Homo sapiens: one gene and its partner. The protein of the gene in region 2 purifies or fractionates together with the protein of the main gene of each other region. This does not show direct contact. Each region holds a gene or a part of one and is shown on either strand. Other genes may lie near its edges.

Region 1 (7,000 bases), on a different chromosome or scaffold from region 2:
ACTCGTGTAACTTTCTTTCCCTTTCTGTTAGAGTAACATTTAAAGCTTTTACCCCCTATAACGATTACCTTTGGTGAGCGGCTTTTTTTAATTGTTTCTTGATTTCTTTGGAGTCTTTCAATTAAGGGGATGGCAAAAGAGAATGTCTTTCCTGTTCCTGTCCGTGCTTGAGCTATTAAATCTTTTCCTTCATATACAGGACCAAAGGTCTTAACTTGAATAGGAAAGAGATATGTTACCCCTCGACCTGTAAAATGAGATTTAATTAAAATACTTCTTTACGACTAGCATTAGGAAAAAATATATTCATTTGAAAATGACAATCATAATTCTTCTATGTCTGCCTAAAGACATGCCACCTGGTGACACAGTTATTCCTACCACAAACAAGCATTACTAAAAAATTAGTCTAAACTTTTGACGAATGCATATAAATCTTAAAGCTAAAAACAAGGCAGAATATTGAAAAGGATGATGTAAAAGTAAGTGCAATTAAAGAAGAGCTACTTCTCTATGCTTTTTATGTTCTCCTTTTGGTCAGAAAAGGCACAGGAGTTTTACAAAATCTAGTGATAGATTTTTAATTGCATATCCATTAAAACTGCAAACCTTTGGGCCAGCCGTGGTGGCTCACGCCTGTAATCCCAGCACTTTGGTAACCCAACTGGAACAGATCAGGAGGTCAGGAGTTTGAGACCAGCCTGACCAACACAGTGAAACTGCGTCTCTACTAAAAATATGAAACTTAGCCGGGCATGGTGGCACACGCCTATAATCCCAACTACTCAGCAGGCTGAGGTAGGAGAATCGCTTGAACCCAGGAGGCGGAGGTTGCAGTGAGCCAAGACTGCCCCACTGCACTCCAGCCTGGGCAACAGAGCGAGGCTCTGTCTCAAAACAACAACAATAACAACAACAACCAAACTGCATACCTTTCAGAAGCTTTATAGTCTCTTCAGAAATAGGAAAATTGGAGAAGGCTCCTTCTTTCTGTTCACGTGTTAAGGTCTGTAAAAATGAAATCAATGGCCTAAATAATTTATACTCAACTCTTCCTCATTTACTGTTTTTAATTTTTTACAGATTAACTTACAAGGAAAATTAGTGGAACACTTTTTTTTTTTTTTTGAAACAGGGTCCCACTCTGTTGCCCAGGTTGGAGTGCAGTGGCACCATCACAGCTCACTGTGGCCTCAACCTCCGGGCTCAAATCCTACCAACCTCAGCCTCCCAAGCAGCTAGGACCACAGGCGCATGCCACCATGCTCACTTAGTTTTTTATTTTTTGTAGAGACAGGGTCTCACCATGTTATCCAGGCAGATCTTAAACTCCTGGCCTCAAGAGATCCTCCTGGCCAGGTGCGGTGGCTCATGCCCGTAATCCCAGCACTTTGGGAGGCCAAGGCAGGTGGATCATGTGAGGTCAGGAGTTCAAGACCAGCCTGACCAACATGGAGAAACCCTGTCTCTACTAACAATACAAAATTAGCCAGGCATGGTGGCGCATGCCTGTAATCCCAGCTACTCGGGAGGCTGAGGCAGGATAATTGCTTGAACCCAGGAGGCAGAGGTTGTAGTGAGCCGAGATTGCACCATGGCACTCCAGCCGGGGCAACAAGAGCGAAACTCTGTCTCAAAAGAAGAACAAGAAAAAAAAAAAGATCCTCCTACCTTGGCCTCCAAACTGCTGGGATTACAAGCATAAGCCATTATGCCCAGCCAAAAAGGTTATTTATTCATCTAAATCATACAGATGTAGACAAAATTATAAAGATTAACACAAGCCTATAAACTAAGCTAAAAGAAAGTATATAATGAGGAATGTAAAGTTTTTCTGAAAATAAGTTAAAAATTTATTCTACAGCGTTTGAAAGCTTATTTAGGTTGCTAATACAAGAGAAAGTTACCGTAAGCTTGAAGATTTCTTTAACATATATACAAGTTACCATGAGATTATCATTTAACATTTATTGAAAACTTTGTATACTAATGTGCACATAGAACAAAAACAGTGTGTCTACCCAGTAAGCTTTATTGTTCATGTGTTTAAAGAAACACACACTAACAATTTTCAAACTTGGAATTAGATAAAAAATAATTTCAAATTCAAATGGCATGCCATTTAAACAAACTTCAATGCTGCTGTTACCTTTTTATGATAAAAAAAATTATAAAAATAATACACTGTCGGCCAGGCGTGGTGGCTCATGCCTGTAATTCCAGCATTTTGGGAGGCCAAGGTGGTAGGATCACTTAAGCCCAGGAGTTCAAGACTAGCCTGAGCAATACAGTGAGACCTTGTCTCTATAAAAAACAAACAAACAAACAAAAATAAACAATACACTGTCATTGTAGAAACTTTTGAAACTGGCAGAGCCCAGTGGTTTATGTCTGTAATCCCAGCACTTTGGGAGGCCAAGGTGGGTGGATTACTTGAGCCCAGGAGTTCAAGACCAGTCTGGGCAACATAGTGAATGAAACACCATTTCTCCCAAAAATACACAAATTAGCCAGGCATGGTGCTACACGCCTATAGTCCCAGCTACTCAGGAGGCTGAGGTGGGAGGATCACCTGAGCCCAGGGAGGATGAGGCTGCAGTGAGCCATGATCACACCACTGCACTCCATCCTAGGTGACAGAGTGAGACCCCATCTCAAAAAAAAAAAAAAAAAAAAAGGAAATTTTAAAAACTACAGAGGAAACAGAAACAAATTTAAAAATTATTTATAATCCACTCAGCTAAAGCCATATTTGAAACATACTCCTCCAGTCTTCACTCTATGCACATAAAATTTTTTAAATAGAAATAAAATCACACTGTATATACCATTTTATAATCTTTTTTTTTTTTTTTTTTTTTTTGAGATGGAGTTTCGCTCTTGTTGACCAGGCTGGAGTGCAATGGTGCAATCTCGGCTCACTGCAACCTCCACTTCCCAGGTTCAAGCGATTCTCCTGCCTCAGCCTCCCAAGTAGCTGGGATTACAGGCATGCGCCACCACACCCAACTAATTTTTTTGTATTTAGTAGAGACAGGTTTCACCATGTCGGTCAGGCTGGTCTTGGAACTCCTGATCTCAGGTGATCCACCTGCCTCAGCCTCCCAAAGTGCTGGGATTACAGGCGTGAGCCACTGCGCCCAGCCTATTTTTTTCTTTTAACAAGATACAATGACTACCTTTTCTATTGTACACCCTTTGGGATAGCTGTATTCTATTATACAGCTATAGTATGTTTTATTTAAACCAAATGTCTACTATCAGACATTTAGGATGTTTAAATATTTTCCTATTATCAACAATATTACTATGATAAGAGTACTTATTCATACAGCTCTGCACACCTCTTCATCATCTCCTTAGGATAAATTCCTTTAAGTAGAATTCCTGAACTCTCATGTGATCTAAACAAAATAATAAACTGTTAAACCTATTATAATACAGATTTTACCAGGCAAAATCCCACCAAAGTGAGAAGCAAGCCATACATTCCACTGCTAGAAATACAGATTTAAAGGACCTTATTTAGATCAACAAACACATGTGCTTCCTGCCAAACAGCAAATTCACAAATTAAAAAAAAAAAGGCCATAACACAAGGATTCAACACTTTTCCCCAAAGATTATGCATTAAGCTCAAATGTATATGAATATCAGCAATTATCGTATTTATATAATATAAAGAATTACTAATTATCAGCCCAGTGTGGTGGCTCATGCCTGTAATCCCAGCAATTTGGGAAGCCGAGACAGGTGGATCACTTTGAGGTCAGGAGTTCAAGACCAGCCTGATCAACATGGAGAAACACCGTCTCTACTAAAAATACAAAAATTTGCCAGGCATGGTGGTGCGTGCCCGTAATCCCAGCTACTTGAGAGGCTGACTCAGGAGAATCGCTTCAACCCGGGAGGCAGAGGTTGCCATGAGCTGAGATTGTGCCATTCCAGTCCAGCCTGAGAAACAGAGAGAGACTCTGACTCAAAAAAAAAAAAAAAAGAAAAAAGAAAAGAAATTCAAGTAGATAACCATCAAGCAATTCCGAATAACTTTAGGAACCCAAATGTACAGAAAAGGTTTAAATTTAACTATTGCTCCCACCTCGCCCCAAGAAAAAGGCCATACAGTGAAATAAACAAGGGCCAAAGGAAAAAAGGCTCAGGCTTCACCTGTACAGACTCTAGTGCAACTAAGAATACTAGACACTAATCAAGAAATGTTATAGAATCAATTCTAATTAGCCTAAAAAAATTCAAATCAACCTATAGTTCAACAACAATGTCAAATGCAAAATAAAAAGCTTCCATACCTCCTCTAGTTTATTATCACTTGATTTATGAGTAGAAGTATCTAAAGATGATACTCGCTTTGATTTTTTTTCATATTCATCTATATCTCCATTTGGTAGATCTTTTCTTCTTGACTTATGAGATTTGGAGAATTCATCTGAAAGTCTATTAAATCCTTCTTCAGTGTCTCCATTTAGCTTCTCTTTCATTTTAGATTTTTTGGCCTTGGGAGCATCCAGGTCATCTGTAACACCATTTTCTCTTGTTTCTGATTTCTCATCCGAGTCATAATGGTGCCTTGACTTCCTTCTGTCACTCTGTGAACAAACAAAGAAGCAATGACAAGATGGTCAGAGGTTTTCTTTTAAGACTCTAGAGAAGTTAGAGCATGACTCCCCCACCAGTTCAGCTCAATCTACAGTTACTTTGAAAACCTGCCTGGTAGAAATCCAGACTGCTTACTAATGCCAAGCTCTAAGCCTCAACTGTTGCTATCTTTCTCATCCCCTTCCTAGCATTCTCAAGACTCAGCCTCTAGCCCCTCTCTAATCCCATCATAAGATTTAAGGAAAATTAAAACGGTTTCTCCTCAGGGAAAGAAAGACAACCCCAGAATTATAAATTACTAAACAAGCAAAAACTTCCAACATTTCCAAGAGAAAAAAAAATTAATACTTATTGAATACCTACCCAGCACTGTGTAATGTGTTTTCAGCTTATCTTGTTTAAATCTTCATAACAACCCTATAAGGGAAGTACAGGTCCATAATCCCTTATCCGAAATTGCGATATCCATAAAGCTCTGAAAACCGAAAGTTTTTTTTGTAACTTATTTGGAGGCAAAACCTTACCTGAACTCATTTGATGGCAAAATTTAACTTGAACTAACGTGAGGCTCTTTATAGTCTTCATTTATCCTGCTTAGTATGACCACTCATATTTAATATTAAGGTGTTTGATTACAGGTTTCAGGCCCCAAACCCTACCGGGGTGCTACCTTTCTAAAAATCCCCAGAATTCTGAATTCCAAAATACAACTAGTTCCAAGGATTTTGGATAAGGGATAGTGAACCTGTATTACCTTTGCCATTTTATTTAATTATTTATTTATTTTTGAGATAGAGTTTTGCTCTGTCACCCAGGCTGGAGTGCAGTGGCGCAATCTTGGCTCACTACAGCCTCCGCCTCCCGGGTTCAAGTGATTCTCCTGCCTCAGTCTTCCAAGTAGCTGGGACTACAGGCATACGCCACCATGCCCAGCTAAATTTTTGTATTTTTAGTAGAAACGAGGTTTCACCCTGTTGGCCAGACTGGTCTCAAACTCCTGACCTCAGGTGATCCACCAGCCTCGGCCTCCCAAAGTGGTGGGATTACAGGCGTGAGCCACTGTGCCCAGCCACCTTTGCCATTTTATAGACAAGGAAACAGAAGTTGTAAGAGGTTAAGCAACTTGCCAAAGATCCACATGTGGGATTTCCTGCAGCTATAAGTACTAGAAACTGAATCTAGCACTGCCTGACTTGAAAGCCCATTCTCTTTTCACATTATGCTTCCTCCCTGCACTTTGACAATTCACAGGCTAAAGGAAAACAAAAAGAAACTATATAATTCATATAGAAGTCCAATTGTTATACTTCCACGGAAGGACAGTAATCCTGGATTTTTTTTTTTTTTTTACGTTTTAAATTCAGTTAATTTTTTTAAAAAACACTATTTTTCAACTTCAATTTTAAAATCTCAAACTAGTGGCCAGTGTTGTGATATTTACAGAACACAATAAATGATTTGGGAATTTAGGACTTTAGCCTGGTGGCTAGCCGTGGTGGTTCACGCCTATAATCCCAGCACTCTGGGGGGGCGAGGTTGGGCGGATCACCTGAGGTCAGGAGTTCAAGACCAGCCTGGCCAACATGGGGAAACCCCGTCTCTACAAAAATACAAAAGTTAGCTGCATGTTGTGGTACACGCCTGTAATCTCGGCCACTCTCAAAAAAATGAATTACCTGGTCAAATATTCAAAATAGATAGCAGTAATTAGTGATAGTAAAAACTACTACCACCAAAATGTTCACCATAACTTACACAACTTTTAGAGTTATTTCACATATAATTTTCTCATCCATAAAATTGGAATTGCTGTGAGAATTGAACAATATGTGTGAAAATGCTTTGCAGTTACACATTACATCATATGATCTGCAGTTAACTACACTAGACCACATCTTTCCAAACCAATAGGTTCTACAGAAAAATAAGATTATTTATCGATTCAGCCTTGGGGCTTGAATTGCTTCTGGGCCCTGCACTACAGAGAGAAGTTGAAGCAAGGCAAAAGGAGACCTCTCGGTCTAAGCCCAGTAACATCTCAAGGTGATTAAATAAATAATTCCACTTTAGACCCACAATGCTTGGCACTCTCCGTCTACTTGGTTTCAGTTACACTTTATATTCCCTTCTTACCTCTATCTTCTTACCTCTACCACATATCTTCTTCAATGGTTCCTCTCCTTCCTCCTCCAGTGGATGCTCCTTGAGTATCTGTTCTCTATGTTCACTTTTAGTACTATTTTCATGGCTCAATACGTACTTCCAGACTCCCTTCCTCACCTACATTCCAACTCTAAGAATCTAAGCACCAGCTCCATATCTCAACACGTCCGAACCAAAGTTATCCTCACCTCAATACCAGACCACTATTCACTTCAGTTTTGTT
Region 2 (16,382 bases):
ATTTTCAGTGGGGAATCCCTGTAGTTATTAAATAAAAAATGCAACCATAGGCCACTAATCTACCTCGATGAACTGCAAATGCAAACTTTTACTATTAATGGGTTTATCTGTGTAGATTATACATAATGATAGTTCCTAGGAAATGTAACCAGTTCTTATAAAATCAACATGAGTGTAACACAGTTTAATTAACAATATACTCATATTAACAATATTTAATTTTTGGCCTCTTGGACTTTATGTTTAGAGATTATTTTAAATAACCTGTGAATATGATAACCTTTTAAAAGAAACTGAACATAGACAAGGTTAAATTCAGATAAGCATGTTAGTTCTACAGTTGGCATTTTTCACTATAAAGAACAATTTTACTATCATTGTATTTTTCTTTACATGTAAAAATTAACATAAATCCTTATTCTCAAAAATTTTAAATTAATAGATTCTTCATGTGCAAAATTTATTATTTAAGTAACCATTTGATTCTAAATATTTTTTAAAAATCCAATGGGGCACTCTTTATGAGGGGTTAATAAATCAATTTATACATTATAAGGCACTTAATCTTAAATATTTGATTTATACAATTAATTTTATTAAGACCCAATGAAATTGAAGTGTTTACAACAATCACCCCCAAAAGCAAAGGAGAAGTAGAAAAAATAAACAACTTCTGAATCACTTTTAAGCCTACAAATTATATTTCTATATATCTTGTCACCTTTTGGCTGAAATAAGTGTGGCAATATAAGCAATTAAAGCTCAATGTTAAAATAAAAGATTTTTGTTGTTGTGTTAGGCTTTCTTAGTGGAATGCTCAATCCAGAAATTATTTTAATGTTTGTAAACTGATTTTCGGAAGATTTGATACTATCATTAGATTTCCGTCTTTACTTATAAAAGAGTGTTTTTTTCTTAATTGCACAGTTCAAAACCAGAGATTCTGTGCAATGGATGCCAAGAAAAACCTACATGGGAAATTTTCATATTAACTATGCCATTGTCTTCTGGTTTTTATAGCAATGTGTTGATAATTGAAACAACAAATGAGCAAAAATGTAAAATATGTCAAAATATCTTCACATACTGTTTAAAGTCTTAGCTGGAGTCTGTCTAAAATAATGATATAACATTACCGTATAAGAAGTAAGTCTTTTGTTTGCTGTGAAAATGATGCTAGTAACTTTCAGAGGCTAGATGTTAGCTAAGAATAAATGTTCATATTGCAACATCGTTTCTGCATTACCTTAGAGGAAAATGGAAAATTCACTTTAAATCTTTTTTGTTCACCCATTCTTAATGATTGAATGTAAATTTCTTGAAAACACAGACAAATCTGAATTGACTTTGCATCTAGCGCTGGGCCTCACATTTAGGAGGTATTACACACTTTTGTGCCTGTGTAAGTGAGGCATCTCTGTATATGACAACCAGCTACTTTCCTGAATTTGCTAATTTCTCCCAATATGCTTCTGCTTTATGAAATTACCATTATTGGGCTTAACTACTTCCCCTATGTGCTTCTAATTCTTTGTGATAGTACTTGAGTATTGACAGAAGTTTAAAAAACCTTAAACAGGAATATGGGAGAACTTTACCTTAATAATGAATGTGTATGAACTGGTTAAAGTCTAGGCTTTAGACTTTAAGCTCCAAGTCTCCAACTAGCAGGAATGATGGAAATCCCCATCCAATTAAGCTTTCTCTCACAGAGTACTGAGTAGCTTATGTCTTCTCCCTGGAAGTCATCACAGATCTCAGTGCTGCTATCTGCTCCCTTACCTCATAGCCCTCACCTGCAGCAGGATTGAACCTGAAGGAACAGCTGGGATTGATCTTGCTGCTGATTGCTTCTACAGATGCTGGGCACTGCCATGCCCCAACCCAGTTCAGAGAAGCTTTCTCTATAACACTATTAAAATTATTAGGTTACCCAAAAGGTGGTCTCATTCTCTGTCCTTTGATTTTTCAATCCCTTTTCTTTCTTTTCTTTTTTTTTAAGAAACAGGGTCTCACTCTGTCACCCAGGCTGGAGTGCAGTGGTACAATCATAGCTCACTGCAGCCTCAAACTCTTGCATTCCAGTGATCCTCCCACCTCAGCCTCCCAAGTAGTGGGGACTACAGCAACACTACACCGAGCCACAGTTCCCTTTCTTGAATTTGGAATTATTTTCCCCCAGTTTGAGTCAGAGAACATTTGAATGGAATCATCTAATGTCCTATCCAAAAGGACTATTTTTCTTTAAAATGCATCAGTGTCTTAGGCTGAAGTTCAAGAGCCTCCATTTCCAACTCTTGGGACTACTATTCCTCATGATCACCATTTAGAAGCCTCTTTTACTCACCTGTCTATTCTTGAGTAAAGTACACAAGGTTGAAGAAAGTCTTCCATTGAAGACATCAAGACAAACTGCTCAGCATTTAGAAATGCTACCATTTGCCCTCCCCAGCCTGAGCCCCAGTTGAGTCTCATCTTACAATCCGGCCTAAGCTCGCCATTCTTGCAAAGTAAGCCTTCACAAAGCTTGCTTGCTCTCATTTTCAAACACAAACTCGGGAAAAGAAAAGAAAAGAAAAGGAGAGGACAATAATTTTGTAGTCCTATTTTATCTGCATAATAGCCCACATCTTGAACTTTCCTTTAACATTTATCTTCTTGGAATATCCTCCTAGTTTATTTTGAAAATCTTTCAAAAATTCCATTATTTTTATTGATTTTCCAGGAAGTTTATGTTTGGTCATTTTTCAAATATTAAGGAACTAGTTATCCCCAACACTACTTCTTACATAATCAGCCTCAGCCTATCTTTACTATGTCTTAAAAAACCAAGCTTATAATTTCAAAATTTTTATTTTAGTTTCCCTTCAAGATCTTAGTTTTAAGATTTTGAATACAACACTCAGTATTGAGGGACTAATTTTCAAGTTCATGAATTATCCGAACCACTTACTATTCCACTTGCTGATACTCCCCTTGGCTTTTTGGCCAATTCACTGTCCATTAGCACCTCTCACAGATGGTGAGCACGAAGAAAAAAACAGTTAATTTTGCTACTGGTTGGAATAAGAAGAAGAACAGTTAATTTTGCTATTGGTTAGTAACTTGAATAAAGGATCTGATAGTGTAGGACATTAAAATTAATACTTTAAGTGGGATTTAAAATTGGTCTGTAGGAGAACAACAATCTTCCTCCTCACAAAATAATGTAATAATAATTATTTTCAAACACTTGGCCAATATAAGTGATATATGAAAGGGAAATTGTGCTGTCTCTATTTGCATAGGGAGATGCTGTTGCTGATACATCAGTGAAAAGAATCCAGACTTTGTACTTGAATAGCCTAAATTCAAATCTTTTCTCCATCATTTATTAGCTTATATGATTGTGAATAAGATATATACAATGTTTCTCTTTGTTCTCTCTTCTGCAAAGTGAAAATAAGGATAAATTTCTCATAGCTGCTGCAATAAAGACCACATATGGGAAAGGCACATTAATAACCATAAGGAATATTCTTCTTATTTTATTATTATCATTATTAATATGTTTGGATGAGTTATATTGATTCATTTACACTCTCTTATCTAGTTTTTACGGAAGATAATTGAGTAAGTTGATGGTCCTGTCTGCACTCTATAACAATAAAACATTTTAATCTTCTTGACAATCTAGTTGGTTTTAGATGACTTAAAACAATGACCTCAGCTCCAATTTTCTAGTCAGCAATCCAAATATTGATCAAATCTAACGTTTGATCAACAATGGGATCAGTTATGCCTGGGATCTGAGTTCTTTAACAGTTTTAACAGCTTAGATTTGTATCTTGACTGTGTATTCTTTTATCAGTGGGGTAAGAATGTACAATGAGGTAAATGTTCTTCTCTTTAATTTTAAATTATCTGAGATGAGATAAAGCAGGCAATGGAGAGAGGGAAAGAATGGAACTGATGCCAAAAAAATCCATTATTTAAAGAGCTTGGGATATGATGAAAATAGGACGAAATGAGGATTTCCCAGACAGATGATAAGGTTTGGAATATACATGACAATGCAATTAGAAACATGAATTATGAATGTGAAGAACCTATTGGTAACTTGCTTTCTATTATCCTGAGTATAAGGGAATAGGAAGCTATTTTAAAAGTCACACATGTAACTTAGGAATACTATATAATGATTCTTGGGAGAAGAATGGTGTTATTTCAATGGCAGTATTTAATTTTCTAAAAAACTGAAAAGAAAAGATTCCAAAATGTGAACATGCTTGAAATCTACAAAATGGCATGTGTAGTCAGAGTAAGCCCACTTTGTTGCTGCTCAGGTGCAATTAGATTTCTAAATATTTTAAATGTCATTCAGTATTACACTAAGAGTTGAGTCCATAAGTGAACAATTGCATGTCTGGAGAAATATTTCACTTTATGAGTATGCATGTGTGATATGAATGTTCATGGTGTGTGTGTGTGCGTGCACACACATATGCCTGTACTTATAAGGGAGTAGAGAAAGGATAGAGAATGTGGTGAGCTAAAATGTGAATGACTGCATATTAAAGGTTGTCTTAGAGAAATTGTGAGTCAGCAAAGCACAAGGAAATTCTAGACTAGTAAGGGATTTAGAAATGACCACAGCAGGTATAAAGCAGAAAGTTTCTCTGGGAGCTGATTGGAGAAAAATCTGCATATCATGAAAGCGAGAGATTCTTTTTTTTTTTTTTTTTTTGAGATGGAGTCTCGCTCTGTCACCTAGACTGGAGTGCAGAGGTGCGATCTCTCCGCCTCCCAGGTTCACGCCATTCTGTTGCCTCAGCCTCCCAAGTAGCTGGGACTACAGGCGCCCGCCACCACGCCCGGCTAATTTTTTGTATTTTTAGTAGACAGGGGGTTTCACCGTGTTTGCCAGGACGGTCTCAATCTCCTGACCTCGTGATCCGCCCGTCTCGGCCTCCCAAAGTGCTGGGATTACAGGCATGAGCCACCGCGCCCGGCCGAGATTAATTCTTTAACAGAATCCAGCAAATTCCTGAAGTTAGGTTTAAACAGCATAAAAAGAAGCATTCTGAGACCGGGAGCAGTGACTTATGCCTGTAAGCCCAGCACTTTGGCAGACCGAGACAGGAGGACGCTTGAGCCCAGAAGTTTGAGACCTGGGTAACTTGTGGAGACTCCATCTCTACAAAATAAATTAAAAATTATGTACGCTTTGTGGTGCGTGCCTGTGGTCCCACCTACTCAGGAAGCTGAGGTGGGAGGATCCCTTGAGCCTGGGAGGTTGAGGCTGCATTGAATTGAGATGGGGCCATTGCACTCCAGCCCGTGGACAGAGTGAGACACTGTCTCAAAAAGGAACATCTTGATTGGAAACTAAGGTTTGAATTTGGGCCCAGGCCAAAAGGATCTTGCTTTGGTTAGTAACATGATCCAAATCATTATACAAAATAGGCACATACACAGAGGTAAAAAAAACAATTGGACTTATTCAACATATTCAAAATGTTATTACTTATCTCTAAGTGGGGAGATCATGGGCAGTTTTAAATCTCTTCTTTTAAGCTTCTCTGTAGCTTCCAAGTTTCATGAGTTGAACTAATTAATTTTGTAATTAGACAAAAACCAATAGACAGTACTTAGAAAGTAAATTTAATCATTGATATTTTTGGAACCATCTACTTTGGGGGTCTGGTAGATGAAAGAGTGTGACCCAAAAATATGTCAATTCAAAGAAAGTGTGGTGACGGTTGATACCACACTCCTCTCAGGATCTGAATGGGCACATAATGTGTTTCATTTATAAAGCTGTTGACTGTTAGAAGGCATGTGTTGGAATTATAGAGGCCATGGATGACCCATGGCCACAGCTTATTTTTCTATCATGCTCTTTCTCTCCTTTATTATCTTATTTACAGGTATTTAGCTGGATTGATCCTTCCCCACCATTTTAACAATAATAATACATCTTTCCCTGAATCATGTGATCCAAAGTGTTGGAGAGGGTGGGCACAAAGCTCCCTTAATCTCTTTCCACCTTACTTAGTAATTCAGACAAAGCTGGACTTTGTAGAAAAGAAACTTCTACCAGGAAATAAAAAGAAAAAACAAGAACAGATGTTTAGAAACAGACATGCTTTAAAAGGCATAGCCTTCTATCTGAATCCTGAAATCAGATGTTGGCAAATCCCAGTACCCACACAAATTCTGCATTGTTGGTGAGAGCTTGTTGAAAATGTTAGGATTTTGGCAATTCTTGACTATTCAGTTTTGTTACTGTGTTTTTTGCCCTCTTAGGAATTTATGTTTTCTTAAAAGAAAATGTAATTAAAAAGCTTCAGTATCTGATATTAATGGACAATTGGGTAATATGACAATGAATCACTCTATGCTAAGGTTTTCAAAGAATCTGACATGGAATCTGGTGAAAAACTTTGCAATTTTTAAGTTAGTGAAGTACATTAAAATACATTTTAATCCATACTCATTTAATAGTAACATTTGACCCATATACTTTAAATATTAGACAAAGTAATTGTAGAAACACTGGCTGAGGTTTCCCTAACTAAATTCCATTGAAAGAATGGCCTGATAGAATCAGTGTCCAGGGGGCTTTGTCTATGGAGGGGGTTTCTTTCCTTGACTCTGGCAATACCAACACTCAAACAACTTGTCCAGATGTAGTATAGCCATTATCTTCCTTCTCTCCTCCTCTGCTTTCATTTCTAGATCTCTGGAATCCCCCGGTCCTAAAGTATTATACATCCTTCCTGTAAACACTGAAGTCCTTCAAACTCTGCCTGCCATTATACTGACCTTTCATAGACTTTTTTCCTGAAGGTGTCTAGGACCTGAAGATCCTGGAAAGTTAGCCCTTATCCTTGAATCATTTCTGGGTTTTGTAGAGTTTGTTTGAAGCACACCTTTAACTCAGAATTGAGGTTGACTGATAAAACTCAGCTTTAAGTAACCCTCTGGGCAAGTTCTGAGCAGAGATCCAGTGAGCTGAATGTCAGGCACCACCTCCCTGGAGTCTGTATCAGTCACATCAGCATTCTCCTCTGATTAGAATCAGGTTTCAAGGGTCTTGTTCAAGAGTTTATTCTCTCCTTTAAAGATGCCACAATACGTATAAGGAATGTCTCTTGGTCCCAACTAATCTACAATAAGAGAGGAGCAGTATAGTCAGAGGCCAGAAAACAACGCAGTTTCTAGTTCAGGTTATATTCTCTTGGAACAGACTCCTTGCTGAGGGGCTTCTAGAAAAGGAATGCAATGGTCCACCTCTTTCTAAGTAGGAGGGGAAGAAGGGGCTTGTATTGGTGGATATAACTCCTTTCCTATCCTCTCAACTGTCTAATCCCCAAGTGACAACCATCCTCTCCTTCTGTTGTACTTTCTAGCTTAAGATAATCACATATATCACACACACCAATGAAGTGCTATCAGTTGGAAAGGGTGGAGACAGAACCAGAAGATGGGAAGGAAAAGGCCTTGAACACAGCCTGTGTGTGTATTAGAGGTGTGTCTTAATCTTTTGGACTAGGGACTACCCAGTAACCACCCTGAGTTCAGTTTTGTATCACTTTGAGACTAAACTGCTGTGGTAATATTTGTTAGACCCTGAAATAAATTACTGACATGACAGTTTCCTTGTTTTTTTAAATGTCCCCATCTTGAATCATAATTATTGGTACTTGTCTTCCTGAGGCTTTTGAGTCCATCAAATGTGTGCAAATTTCATTTGGGTTAATGTTATTTTCCAGCTTTCATCTGAAACTGCCCATCAGCATTCACCTGCTAGGGTGTTGCTAGAACATGTAAGGCCATGTGGGTTGATGAAGGTAATTTATTCCCACCAATTGGAAAATAAGCTACATTACTTCTAGCTTAGGAATTCCATACATATTTTTAAAATGAAATATGAAACGCAATTTTTTCCCCACACAAATTAATTTGATTCATTAAAGGGCTGAGAATTCTCCCACCAGAAAATCAAGTTTATAGTAGGACCTCAGCATGGGATGGGGTAGATTCGTTTCTCCAAGAACTTGGAGAAAGAGGACAAAAAGGAAAAACATATCAGTGTCCACTCAGCCTTTTATTTTTGGTGTTTCTAAAACTAAACATTTGCTCTTCTTCCATATCCCTCTCTCACTGGAGATCCCTAGTGAGGACACCCCCATTCTGTGTCTTAAGGATATCTGGTGATGATTTCTAAAAGAGAGTTTCTTTTATTAGTAGTAGCAGTAGTAATTGTTCGAGACGGGGGTGTCACTCCGTCACCTAGGCTGGAGTGCGCTGGCACAATTATAGCTCACTGCAGCCTTGACCTCCTGGGCTCAAGGGATTTTCCCGCTTCAGCCTCCTGAGTAGCTGGGACTACAGACATACGCCGCCACGCCCAACTTTTTTTTTATTTTTTTAATTTTTTTTTTATAGAGACAGGAGTCTCATTATGTTGCCAATTTTGGTCTGAAACCCCTGGGCTCAAGCGATCCTCCTGCCTCAGCCTTCCAAAGTGCTAGGATTGCATGACTGATCCACTGTAAGTGGGTTTCTAAAACAGAGATCTTTACAAAGCTTTTTGAAATAATTTGACTCAGCATGCCAGGTAACCAGAACTGTAAGATCACAATTTGAAACAGACATTGTGGTGATGGTGGGAAGAGACGGCCTGCATCAAAACAATGTTTACTAGTTTGTCCTTTTGTCCCATATTGTGTAACTCCGAGAGTTCTTACACCACCGTAAGAAAGTAATTATACTTTGAATTTCTCTAAGGCTCTAGTTAGAGAGCATCCATCTAAATGTGCATTTCCAGGAATATTGCTTTAATGGCCCAGGTAATTCTAATTGGAGAAATAAAATGTTAGCGAGACAGAGTTGGTAGAAGCAAGTAAAACCGGTGTATGGGGTTTGGCCAATGAAATGCAGAGCTCCTTGAGGGCAGGAGACATGTATTCACCAACCTTCTCGCGCCCACAGCCCCAGATCTGTGGCCAACAAGTATCTATGATGCACTTGAAAGGAACGAGCGATGCCAGATGCGGAGGAACCAGGCAGGGCGCATTCTGTCAGTGGCGCCAGGCGGTGTAGCTCCAGCTCTCAGATAACCCAGGCTTTGGGAGGGCGGGGCTCCTGCCGGCCTCCCCTGTAGTGCGGCTCGAGTCCTGTGAAGCTACCAGTTGCCAAATGAAATCTGAAACCTCGAGCTGTGTCTGAGGGTTGGCCCCACTCAGTTGTTCCAGCCTCTTGTACTGTATATTTACACATTCACACACAATCACCCTTTCTAACTTCTGGGACTCTTTGCGCAACTGCTAGGATTTCTCAAGTGCATGTGGCAACACAGCCCAGCTCCGGGTGGAAACCAGCAGGGCTCTGGAGGGGCTCGGAGACCAGGGGAGCTGTCAAGGCTGCGGCGGGGACCAGAGAGGAGCCTGGCGGGGGTGGCTGGGTGGCTGGGGGAATCCCCCCAACTTCCCATCGCAGGCGCAGCTCTCTCGGCCGCCTATTTCCTCCGAAACCCGCGCTGCGGAGCAGCCCAGTGCATAGAGTTCAACACTTCCCCTTGTTGTGGAAAGTAAAGGAGCCTCACTACCACCTTTTTTTCTTTGCGTTTTCTTACTGCTGGTCCTGGGAGCCTTTTCCTTCGGAGCAGCAGCCCTGTCCGGCATCTGTCTTGAGCTCCCAGCAAGGTAGGTGATGCGGTCGCGAGGAAGTGCGCGGAGCTACCGCGGGAAGGACGGACGCGGCTGCCTGCGCCAGGGGAGGGGGCTGCGGGGGGCGGGGAGGGGGCTGCGGGGGGCGGGGAGGGGGCTGCGGGGGGCGGGGAGGGGGCTGCGGGGGGCGGGGAGGGGGCTGCGGGGGGCGGGGAGGGATCGCAGGAATCCCGTGCTGATGTAGCCTGTCTGTGTTTGTGTGTGTGTGTGCGCGCGCGCGCATGTTTGTGCCGGGAGACAGCAAGCTGGTAGTATGTCTTTCTGGCTTTAAAAATAGATGGAATTAATAAAAACCCTTTGTACAATTCAATTTCCTCTCTTGGTATCCATCCTCCCCTTCCCCTTGTTTGTTTCCTCTAGTATCTTATAGGAGTTCCCTATGTAACAGGCGCACAAAGATAGGTTTTAATAATAAGCATATATATTTGCAAAAATATATATTTTATATGTATAAAATATGTTTTAAAATATTTATAAATATATTACATATTAGAAATATATATTATAAAATATATACATATATTTGTAAACACAAAACGTTAGGGAATCTTTGGTGAATTTGAAGCCACTCAAAAGATTTTGTCCAAATGTTTTTAAAAATAACATTTAATGATAAACATGTAATATGGTCTCGTTTTTAGAAAATACTTAAGACTACATTTATTTTATACGTACCCAAATAGAAGGGAGACAATGTTACTCTGAATTCCTTAGATAGATTTTCAGCATCAACCAGTAATAGGGAGCCCAGACTTCTTTGTAGACTATATCTCGTTTAATTCATTTGAATTAAACAAGTAATTTCTCCAAGTAATTTCTGTTTCCAGCACATTTTATGTTACTCTTTTTTTAACCTTCCACGGCATCATTGTTTCATCTCTTTCTAAAAAGGAAATAAATAAATCGTGCTGAGTATTTGGAATATAAAAGTTGTTAAGGCTTTGCTTATACATAAATACATAAATAAAACAATATGTGTTGCTATGTCTACTAAGTAAGACAAATTCATTGGAATCCAGGGATATTTGCAGTAGAGTTTAAGAGCTTTACTCAGTTACTGAGTAGAAGATGTACAGACGGATTAAATACAAACAATCTGTCCCCAGTTCCAATTAGAACTCAAAACCAATCCTTCAGGGCAAAAATGGATGACGCTATTGAACTGGGCATTGTAAAATAAAACACACAGAATGTATGTATTAGAAAAAGCCAGAAAACAGCCATAAAGTCACATCAGACTTGTGAAGATCTCACTCCCCCTTTTAAATTTCTTAATTCTTCCTCTTTTCTGGGCATATTTCAACTTGTAAGAGAGCTCAGTAATAAAAGTTACCATTTTATCTTCCCTGACTGCCTGGCCTTCAGGTAGCAAGTCCAGAAATCTGTTCTCTCTAGAGCCATTACTTAGTGGTCAGAGACTTCACCTTTGACATCTTGGAGGACGGAAATATTGACAAAACTCTGAAATAAATAACATCCTACCATTCACAGGCAGTATATTCTTGGTGGAAGACCTTTAAGTGGGGATAAGAGATAAACTGAGTTTTTCAGATCTGGAATTTAGTTTGAGGTATTTGGAAGGAATATAAAAGAGGTATGGTACTAGGAAAAATAATCGGTAATTCTTTCTGCATGTGGAGGGGCTGTTGAAACTCAGACTGTCCTTGGCTTTCAACTATATTACTTGGTTTTATTACTTCATCTCAGGGGTTTGGATTTGAGATGAGGTGGTTTCTCTGTAATATTCTTCTGTGCCTTACATACCCTGAATCTGAACTATTTTGAAAATATAAGCCTGATAAGAAGTGGGAAAGAATTAAGTTATCTAGAAAAAAATCCACTGCAGAACAAATGGCAATGCATTCTTCCAGACTAGAACATAGATTTAAGTGTAAAAGTGTTTTTGGGTGAAATCCCCAGGGAAATCCTTTCAGCTTTTGCTGGGGATAGTAATGGCCAAAGCTCTGAGAGCTTTCATGGATCATGGTTTTATTTACTGTGTGATCTTGGACTCTGCAGGGTGAAGGGTAAGGAGTGGGCAGGAAGGGTGAGGAATGTGCAACAGGTGGTGATGAGTAGTCCGAGTATGATTACTTTGCTGTCTTAGCCAAAGCCCTGTTGGTGTTTACCAACAGTTCCCTTAATATTTTCACTGTGACCTACTGGCCCATTGACGAGTGTTTTCTTTCCGGCTCGATTAAAGTCTGGGTTGGTTTCTCAGGGCTGAAAGCAAGCGGTGCTACTGTACAGTTCAGGCCGTGCGTTTGTTTCCTGTTCTTAGTGTGTGTGGTGCTGTAGCACCGTCTTAGTCGCTTGTAGTTATTTTCCTGTGAATTTTCTGACCAGCAGTGAAGGGTTCTTTTCTCATGAATTGAGCTATGTCATGCTGATTCCTTCTTTCTGCCATGTTTCAGTTTCTGGTACAAGTGGGTGCTTTGGAAAAACAAGATGGGGAAGGTAGGTAGAGTCTCAGTCTGGAGCCCAGTAACAAGGGACAGCCACCCAATTGGTTACATGTGGGTGTGGAGGAGGTTGGTGATAACAAGAGCCTGAGACATCCATTCTTCACTGATCACATTTTATAGAGGAAAAAGCAGAAGATATTTAAAATGGAACGATGCCTGTTTGCTCTTAAAGCCATGGCTAAAGGACTAAGATCTCTCCCAGATACAGAAAGATATTTAAAAATACAGTTGTTAAATGGTCAGCTTAGCCATGAAGTTAATGTTCTTCATGTGAAGAGTGGAAGCCTCACATCGAGTCTCGCAATGGTAACCCATCTGTCTTTGCTATACAAACTCAAACTTTACAAGGTTCTGATGGCTTCAGCAGCTAAGTACAAGCACATTTGGAAGTGGAGGGATTATTGTGATGAAGAATCAAAGAATATTCAGTTTTCAGTGGTTATTGTGTACATTTGTGCAAAAAAGCAGCATCTACACTCCACTGTGGCATTGCTACAGTTAATCTTTACAAAGTCAGATCTAACTGTGTAAGTCTCTTTATCTAAAACCTTTGTTGGATTCCAATGACTTACAATATTTAAACTCTTTAGTATAGTTTCTAAAAGCTCTTCCAAGCCCTTTCTTTTTAGCTCCCCCTTTGTGTACAAGGTCTCCTCACTGTTCAGGCTTCTGATCTCTGGTTCATGGATTCATTCTCCTGGAATGCCTTCTGTCTGAAAGTCCCTCTTGATTCTTGGTGGCTCACTTCCAGTGGAACTTCCTTCGGGAAAACTTACCCAATTCCGTGAAGAATTAATCATTTCATCTTGTCTGCTTCTATAGCATTTTGAACATACTTTGAATAATTGTTGCAATAATTTTTATGTATTTCCCCTGTCCTCTCTCACAACTACTGTGAGTTCCTCACTGGGTAGATTGGTGGTGGGGGAGCCACCTGAATTCAAGCCCCCAGCCCAGTGTTGGAAACATAGTACACATCTGTTAATGTTTCCCCAATAAGTGGGCAAGTGAAGTCGTCAATAAATGAAATACTGGTGCACTCCAACTTATGAAGATAGTTATATCTCAGAAGTCCATTTAAAAAATGTCTATTTGGTCTTAGAGTTCATTTTCCAAATATAACAATGCTACAAAACATAATCCACTTTCCATACCACCCCACACATGCCTATTTAATCTCTATAATAGATGAAATATTGTGCTTTTGCATATCTAAAGCAAAAGCAAAACAAACAAAAACTACTGTGAAATCATCTTTTTCTTTTGGACATCACAAAATACACTTGAGTTTAAAGAAAATAGAAACAATTATAATAGATATACATTTTCCACAACTGTGTTTTATATTGTACTATAAAATCTGTAATCTGTGAAATCCAAGTGGGAGGTCCTGGATTTGGCTGTGAAGACTAATAATGAAGTTAAATTTGGAGATCCTGCTTATTGAATGGGCAATAGTCTTAATTAATCAAATAAAATAGAAACACTAATTTTGGCTATTTAATAATTATCTGGAGTGCTGGTGCTTGAGGGAAATTAATTAAAGGAGAATGTGGAGCTGGATGGAGAAGAGGAAATTTAGAGGGGCAGCTTCTTTCATGTTATAGTTTCTTTATTGTATTGATTTTCCTTTCATCTCATTTGAGCACTGAGGCAAATCCAAAGTTTCTTCCTGAAAAAAATTCTTTGTCTGCAGTTATTTTTGCTAATATGTAGAAAGGGGCTTACACACTGTTTAGACTAAAATACATATGGGCTTATTTTATTTTCAGAGCAATGTTACCTTTGTCATGTGCATACTGCCAGTTAGCACGTGGATAATACGTATTTTGATCAAGAATTCATACGTGTGGTTCAGGGTATAGCCAGGGATTGAAAGCTCAAGTTCCTCCTTATTCAGCATCTCTGAAAAGCCTGGAACTACTATCACTGATATTTAAGAATAATAGTCCAATCGCTAATTGCTCTAAGTTTTCTAAACTCTCTATCTATATCAAATTACATAACTGGAAATGTACTTACTATAATCACATTACAATACTTTTTTGTTAAAATGTCAAAATGTCTTTATTACACTATGCTTTAATATGATACCCCCCCTTTTTAACTACTGAGAGTCAATATAAAAGAGATGAGCTGAAAAGGAAAGAAATATCTTGGCACCTTATGTTATGCGTTTCAAATTCTTTATATAAGGATTTCCATGATAAATTCCTTTTTGCCTAGACTGCTAGGAATTTTTTAAAGTATATCTCTTCTGATTAACTAGTGGGTTTTTTTGGTTAGAAAAAAGACAGGCTAAAAATTCACCATGCTTCTCAGTTTGACTTGTCACCCAAAAAACTCTGAACTAAATTTGATGCTCAATTGTACGCCAGTCAAGCTTTTTGTATGACATGGTTCACATCATCTTATTGTCACTTTTAATACCCTTATGATACCCACAAGTGTACTAAGCTAATTAAGCTAAGTTAAATCCATGATGAAAACAGATTGAATAGTTACATCACGTTTTTTTCTTGATACAATTAGTTAAATATTTATAAATTTGCATGGTATGGCTTTAGTTTTTTGGAACCAATAATTGTTTTCTAGGTCATTTTTTGTAGTTCCTTGAAACATTCTCTGTAGTGCTTTTATAATCCCTGATAGATAAAATGACCTTTCTTCCAAATGCTACATTTTTTAAAAAATGTAGGAAAAAAATCACATTTTAGTAACTTTGAAAGTAGATACTAAGGCCAAACATGAGTTCTTTTCAATATGTGTATCACAGATGTATAGAAGAATTCCCTTAGGGATGTCGCTGAGAAGGGTAAGAGAAAACCTTTTGTTTTTTCTTACAAATTGAATCTATCAAAAAATTGAGGCTGATGGAGCTGTAATTAGGGCTGTTTTCAAACCATCAAATTGAGCCTTCAGAAAATAAAGTAATTTTTCAAATTCTCCAAAAAGGGAGAATATAACTTTCATTTTGTCTTGAGTTTTTTTCCCTCTCCTTGAATCTAAGACTCTCATAATAATAATCATCCTAAAGAATTAAGTACTTCTTCTACGTACCAAGTACTCCATGAGATATTTTTACATACATTACTTCTGATTTTAGTAGTAATTAGAATTAGTAATTCTAGATGTAATCTATGTTATATTTAATCCAGATATTTTTATGACTATTGTATGGGGATGTTTAGGCTCAGAGAGGTAAATAAAGTTACCCAAGGTAATGTAGACTTGAACATCAAAACCACATCTGCATAAGTCCAAATACCCTGACATATTTACTATGTCCCTTTCCTCTCAGTGCTTTTCAATTATGAATTTTCAAATAATAAACTGTGTATTTCATGGGTTTGGCATGTAGGATAGATCCTGATCTCAATATGATTCTCATGAACTGGCCTTGGAGCTCTCTTGCAGGTCTTCTAGATGACAGCATCCTAGTGCTGATGAGTTGGGACCTGTGGGATGGGTTACCACTACCAAGGTTGGCTAGTGAGAAAAGAGGCTCCATCTACCATAGGCCAGTAACTGAATCAATCTATAGTGATTAGCCTAACCAGACTATTTTCTGGTGAGAAGTGAACAGGAAAGGTGTGGTCCACAGAGATCCAGTAATCTATATCCATTACTTCATTCCATGACATGGGGACATACGTCCTGGGAGCACTGTGAGCAACAGGTGGAGGCAAAGAGGAGGCAAGTGGTCCCCAGTTTAAGAATAGAGCCCCAGCTTGGGAAAGCTGAAATAAAACAAAAAAGGATGATTTCTTTGGGGAGATAGCAACTGAGAAAAGAAGAAAAGTTGGGTTAGTAGTGTTAGTACTCACTGGGCACGCAGAAGTAAAATGAGCTACAGGGAATGGGATTTCAAAGCCAGTCTTTCTCAGAGAAGGGCAATTATTAGAGGAATTATGGGAGTGCATCTCACTCCTGTTTGAGGAGATACCTAGAGAAGAGAATTCTACAGCTACCTTGAAGAGTCATCTTTGATTGTTTCATTTTGTTGGAACTATCTGGTTTAAAATTTTCTTATATGGAGAAGCTTCCAGCAAGAAAATATGATCCGGGGGAGTTAAAACAGCCTGATGTTATCTTCTTGCAACCTAACTGTGTAAACCCAGGATTAGCCACAAAAATACTACCTTCAGTGTCATTTTGGTTTTCACTTCCCATTATGGTTTGTCATTGTGAAATCGTCAAG

Evidence for each region.
Region 1: the proteins of ARHGAP24 (region 2) and DDX50 purify together in Homo sapiens (affinity purification with mass spectrometry, with the first as the bait; 2 studies listed by BioGRID). This does not show direct contact.

Annotation. Positions count from the first base shown.
Region 1 is NC_000010.11:68,904,315-68,911,314, reverse strand, and holds part of DDX50 (ATP-dependent RNA helicase DDX50), read right to left. Parts: intron 5,046-7,000; exon of another isoform or gene 4,978-5,045; intron 4,605-4,977; coding exon 4,308-4,604; intron 3,405-4,307; exon of another isoform or gene 3,345-3,404; intron 1,009-3,344; coding exon 933-1,008; intron 248-932; coding exon 69-247; intron 1-68. UniProt on the Homo sapiens protein: ATP-dependent RNA helicase that may play a role in various aspects of RNA metabolism including pre-mRNA splicing or ribosomal RNA production.
Region 2 is NC_000004.12:85,465,868-85,482,249, forward strand, and holds the start of ARHGAP24 (rho GTPase-activating protein 24), read left to right. Parts: upstream 1-9,282; 5' UTR 9,283-9,692; intron 9,693-16,382. UniProt on the Homo sapiens protein: Rho GTPase-activating protein involved in cell polarity, cell morphology and cytoskeletal organization. Acts as a GTPase activator for the Rac-type GTPase by converting it to an inactive GDP-bound state.